Regions from separate parts of the Homo sapiens genome. Here region 1 is linked to region 2. The links come from fine-mapping of genetic effects on gene expression. Tissue or cell type: unexposed skin. Region 2 holds a variant in brackets; the other region holds the start of a gene. All regions are shown on one strand. Distances are between the middles of the regions.

Region 1 (2,681 bases), 190 kb before region 2:
AAATTAGCCGGGCGTGGTGGCGCGTGCCTGTAATCCCAGCTACTCTGGAGGCTGAGGCAGGAGAATCTCTTGAACCCGGGAGGCGGAGGTTGCAGTGAGCTGAGATCGCACCACTCCAGGCTGCACTCCAGCCTGGGTGACAGGGCGAGACCCTGTCTGTAATCAGTAATAATAATAATAAAATTAACAGCTTTATTGAGTATAATTTACATGCCATAAAATTCACCCACTGGAAGTTTACACTTTCTTCACTTTACAGGGTCTCACTCTGTCGCCCAGGCTGGGATGCAGTGGCGCCATGTCGGCTCACTGCAACCTCTGCCTCCCGGGGTCAGGTGATCCTCCCACCTCAGCCTCCCAAGTAGCCGGACTACAGGTGTGCACCACCACACCTAGCTAATTTTTCTTTTTTTTCTTTTTTCCTTTCTCTCCCTCCCTTCCTCCTTTTTTTTTTTTTTTTTTTGTAGATACGGTGTCTCCCCATGTGGCCAGGTTGGTCACAACTCCTGAACTCAAGTGATCCGCGCGTCTCGACCTCCCAAAGTGCTGGGATTACAGGCGTGAGCCACTGCGTCCGGCCACACTTCCATGACTTTTTAATAAACTTATACAGTTGTACAATTGTCACCACAATCCACTTTTAGAACATTTCTATTACCGCTTTCCTCCAATTTTTTCAAGCCCATCTGCATTCAATACCCGCTCCCACACCTCGCCCCAGGTAACTGTGCTCTTTGTCTTTGTAGATTTGCCTAGTGTAATTTATTTTTTACTTCGGTAATATAAGTAGGTCGTGCAAAATAGAGACTATTTAGCAACAGACTAGGCAGACTTAAATCCGATGGAAAGTTTAAAGTTGTTTAAAAGTGGGCTATAGTTTCACATGACTTTTTTAAAAAGAGGAAAGGTGAGAAGAGGTTCCAGTCTGGGGCGGCTAGGACTGGGGTGATGGTTCTGGAGGCGGCGAGGGAAGGTGTGAGGCGAGGAGACCTCTCGAATCGCGCCCGCCCCGCCCAGGGCCGGATTGGCTCCCAACCCACCCTCTTTGCTCCAGGGCGGCCGCCGTCCTCTTGCGCAGGCGTAGTGCTCCTGCTTCCTGGCCGAGGGCGGGCGAGCGGAGCCTGCTTTCGCAGCGATCGCGAGCGTGTGGCGATTGCTTCTGTCTGTTATTTAGATATGGAAGCTGAGGGGATGCACAGAGGCAGCCAGAACCTAGGTCAGGGTCTCGCTCGGTGCTGACCGCCCCCGGGGTCGAGTAGGCGATGGGGGAGCCCGGCTTCTTCGTCACAGGAGACCGCGCCGGTGGCCGGAGCTGGTGCCTGCGGCGGGTGGGGATGAGCGCCGGGTGGCTGCTGCTGGAAGATGGGTGCGAGGTACGGGGGAAGGGGTCCTGTGGAGCGGAGGGCAGGGGCTGGAGGGAGCGGGGCTCCGGGGAGGGAGGAAGGTGTCTTGCTGGGCTGAATGAATGGCAGAGAGGAGGCGGGCATCAGGAAGAGGAGCGAAGTGTCTGTGGGGGGGGTGGATTCCTGGGGAGAGAAGGGAGAAAGCGGTTCTGGCGCGAGCGGCTGAAGGGTCTGCGGTGGGAGGTGTTTGGGGGAGAAATAGGGGCCGAGTGGGAGAAAGGAAGAAAAGAGAGTTCGGCTCTGGGGAGCCCGGGGGGGCCACAAGGGTTGGGGCGAGGACGGAGGCCCTGACCCGCGGCCTGTGGGGCGAGAAGCGGGCCCCGTCCAGAGAGGCCTGGGTCAGCGGGTAGCTGGGCCGGGGACTGGGAGGAGAGGGACGCGCAGGGAACGTGAGGAGATGCGGGGGTGTCGAGGAGGGGAGGGCGGGGGCTGGCCAGATCCCGTTTAGGGCGCACAGAGCCCCGCGGTGCCAGGTCGGGGAACGGTGGCGGGGGCCGCGAGCTGCCGGGAAGCCGAGGCAGGGCCCGGCGCCTGAACTTTCTCGAGTTTGTTTTGAAAACGATTGCAAATTTTGGGTTTTGTCCCTTAAAGCAATCAAACTTTCACGTAGAAATGTCTTCCTCCTTCCCAACTCTGAGGAACATGGGCGGCTTGGGCTGGGCCACATTTCTCCTGTGAGGCTCGGTACGGCCGAGTGGCACTCCCTGAGGTGGGTCGGGCAGGTATTCAGAGTTCTCTCCAGAGGCTGCCTGTCGTCTTTATTAATGCAGTTGCAAATGAAAAATATTTTAAGGGGAAAGATGAGGTACCGTTCCTGGCACGGTTCAAGATGCACCAGCGTGGTGCATCTTGAAAAGACGAGGGAAGGGAGGAGGGAGTTAGATTGCAATCAGGTTGAGAAGGAGAACTGGGTCAGGGACAAGCTTGTGATGACTGGGAACCATTTGGGTTTTGGAAATAATCTGTATGAAAAGTTCTCTTTGCAGTAAAAGTGGATGGTTGGTCATGATGTAAATTCAAGAAGTATTTTGAGTCTCATGTGTGTTCAGGTAGATTTTTCCTATAAGCCGTACTGCCTCAATTCAGTCTGCCAGGTATTTACTGAGTATTTAACATTGTTTGGTGTACAATGAGGACAAATAAAATTTCTGCGCTCGAAGAGTTTAAGGCTTGAGTGGGGAGAGAGGATTTATACAATGAAGCAGTCATCGTATAAAGAACATCCATATGGGCTGTATGATCAAGTGCTAAGATTTGGATTATTTAGTTCCTTCCCAG
Region 2 (2,681 bases):
CCTGGGGAATGAAAAGGAATCAATGCCCTGCTGCCCCACCACCAGCCAATTGAACCAGGGTCTCTGGTGGTGGAGCCTGGGCATTCCTGAATGAGTGACAAGGTTGAGGGCTTGAGTGGAGGCCGGGCTTGAATGCAATGAGGGGACAGAGAGGTTGACACAATGTGCGGCTGGGCTGACTGGGGAACACGGGCTGGCCCTGCGGGGTTTGGGAAGATAGAGGCTGGCAGAGGTGAGTGGTCTAGGCTAGGGGAGGAACTGGCCTGCGAGTTTGCAATTATTTATGCAACAGACACGAAGTGGGCAGCCCCTGAAGCTCAATAAACCCCTGTGTTTTCTGCGTGGAGATGGTCTTTCAGACCCCTACACCACGGGGGCTTCCCTCTGGGGCTCCTAAGAAGGCTGGGCATTGGGGAGCCATCCACACTCCTTCCTGCCCCCTGAAACTGGCGCAAGCTTAAGAAAGCTTCTGGCTGGGGCCAGGGGCAGGACCAGGGAAGAGAGTATGTCCGCAACATAACCTCCATCAGCCCCCACCACCAAGCATGGACTCCATGGCCCTTACCAGGTCTTTCCAGTTTCTACCAGGCCCTTTAATGCTCTATCCTGTGGCCCACCTATTGGCAAGAAGAAAGGAATTTTTGAGTAAATGGAACATCCTTTCCCTCCCTAGAACACCCATGAGGTCAGTCTTGTTCCAGGAGATAAATGAGGTGACTCCCAGGGAGGAGACTCAGCCCCGTCCTCAGGGAGCCGCAGTCTGAGGGGAGCCACAGCCCTGACTCAGGGAGCCCCAGTCTGAGGGGGACACAGCCCTGCCTTCTACAGCAGTGACCACCCTGTCCCAGTGGAGTCCTACGCCAGCCTATCTAGAGGGCTGGAGGCCCTAAAAGAATGGTTGGTGGCCTGAGGCCTGCCCAGGGAGCAGGGTGAAGCCTGACAACGGATCTCTCCATGTCTGTCTCTCCCTCAGGACTGGGGTAGAAAAGGAAGGAAGAATGGAAGGAGGAATAGCGGGAGACAGGACAGCCTCAGCGCAAACTTTCATTTCCTTCCCACCAGAGGTCAGTCCTGACTTTGGCTGTTCTTCTGGGTACCCTCTTCCCTTCCCCCTCACCACCCATGGCCCTTCTCCCCTCATGACAGGTTAGTTACACACCAGGTCCCTCCTCCTCCCCGGGGTGAGGCCTGGAGGCCTTGAGTCAATCCCTTTCCCTGACACCCTGACCCCTCCCCCGCACCCACCGTGTTGCAGGGACTCCAGCAGCTGATGATCATTGAGCCCATAGCCTGTGCCTGGGGCTGTTTGAAACCTTGTCCATGGGATTGTTTAATCCTAACAACAGCACTAGGAGGTGGCTGCTATGATTTTTTTAACAACTAGTAATCAATGAATTAAAATAGTTGACCTAAGCATCTGCAATGGTGACTTCAGCCTTCACTCCTGGGCACATTACTAATGGAAGTAATGAGCTGATAACCTCAGAGGACGGTGCAAGTCAA[T/C]GAGTCACTTGTGGATTCTTATCTGGAAGACACCCTGCGTCTTAGAACCTGCACCACAAGTTTTTGTTGTTGTTGTTGTTGTTTTTGTTTTGTCTTTTTGTTTTGAGACAAGGTCTTGCTCTGTTGCCCAGGCCGGAGTGCAGTGGCACAATCTCGGCTCACTGCAACCTCCACCTCCTGGGTTCAAGCGATTCTCCCACCTCAGCCTCCTGAGTAGCTGGGACTACAGGTGCGCGCCACCACGCCTGGTTAATTTTTGTATTTTTTTTGTAGAGACGGGGTTTCACCATGTTGGCCAGGCTGGTCTTGAGCTCCTGGGCTCAAGTGGTCCACCCGCCTCGGCCTCCAAAGTGCTAGGATTACAGGCGTGAGTCACAGCGCCCAGCCCACCACAAGTTTTTCTCAGGGTGATTCTCAAAGTCCTGGGAGGCATCAGAATTGGTCCTGTCACTTTTGAGAGTTCTTTCCTTGGGGCCTCTGATCAAGTCAGCACACACCTCCAGGGATTTTTCTTTGCAGCTGGTTAGGGTAATTCTAATTCGGTGATTTGCCACCTCTGGCTCCATGAGTGTTTCTCTGGTGTCCTTAAAAGCCACAGCTGGGCCGGGCGCGGGGGCTCGTGGCTGTAATCCCAGCACTTTGGGAGGCCAAGGTGGGTGGATCACTTGAGGTCAGGGATTCAGGACCAGCCTGGCCAACATGGTGAAACCCTATCTCTACTAAAAATACAAAAATTAGCTGGGCATGTTGGCAGGTGCCTGTAATTCCAGCTACTCAGGAGGCTGAGGCAGGTGAATGGCTTGAAACTGGGAGGTGGAGGTTGCAGTGGGCTGAGATTGTGCCACTGCACTCTGGCCTGGGCAACAGAGCAAGGCTGCGTCTCAAAAAAACAAAACAAAACAAAAAAACACCACAGCTGCAGTGCAGCTTCCTGACCAACTTGTTTCTTGGTGAGTGAACAGCGGTGACTTGCAGCAGGAACTGGCGGACCAGAGCTCCGTAGCACCCATAACCTCATCTTCCTGAAAAAGAGGCTTCTATTATTATCTTCATCGTATAGATGAGGAAACAGAGGCACAGAGAGGCTAAGCGACTTACCCAAGGTTGCAGAGCTGGTAAGCTCTGGAGGTTGAACACAGGCAGTCTGGGCAGAGTGCCTGCTCACTGTCCTGCCTCTC

The links. PIP is the estimated chance that this variant, and not a neighbour inherited with it, causes the effect.
Region 1: RNF8 starts here. The variant in region 2 is fine-mapped to the expression of RNF8 in unexposed skin (GTEx, PIP 0.99).

What each region holds. Positions count from the first base shown.
Region 1 is chr6:37,352,903-37,355,583 of GRCh38, forward strand. It overlaps RNF8 (ring finger protein 8), which reads left to right and starts at 1,081. Exons shown (of 8, transcript NM_003958.4): 1 at 1,081-1,373. The coding sequence starts at 1,263. RefSeq lists a silencer at 934-1,033 and an enhancer at 1,334-1,383.
Region 2 is chr6:37,545,182-37,547,862 of GRCh38, forward strand. LOC124901312 (a long non-coding RNA gene) reads right to left here. Exons shown (of 3, transcript XR_007059567.1): 2 at 2,602-2,681; 3 at 1,757-2,525. Among named protein-coding and RNA genes, the nearest start is that of MIR4462, 8.9 kb to the right of the region's middle. RefSeq lists an enhancer at 438-1,047. The variant T/C (reference allele first, on the strand shown) is at 1,504.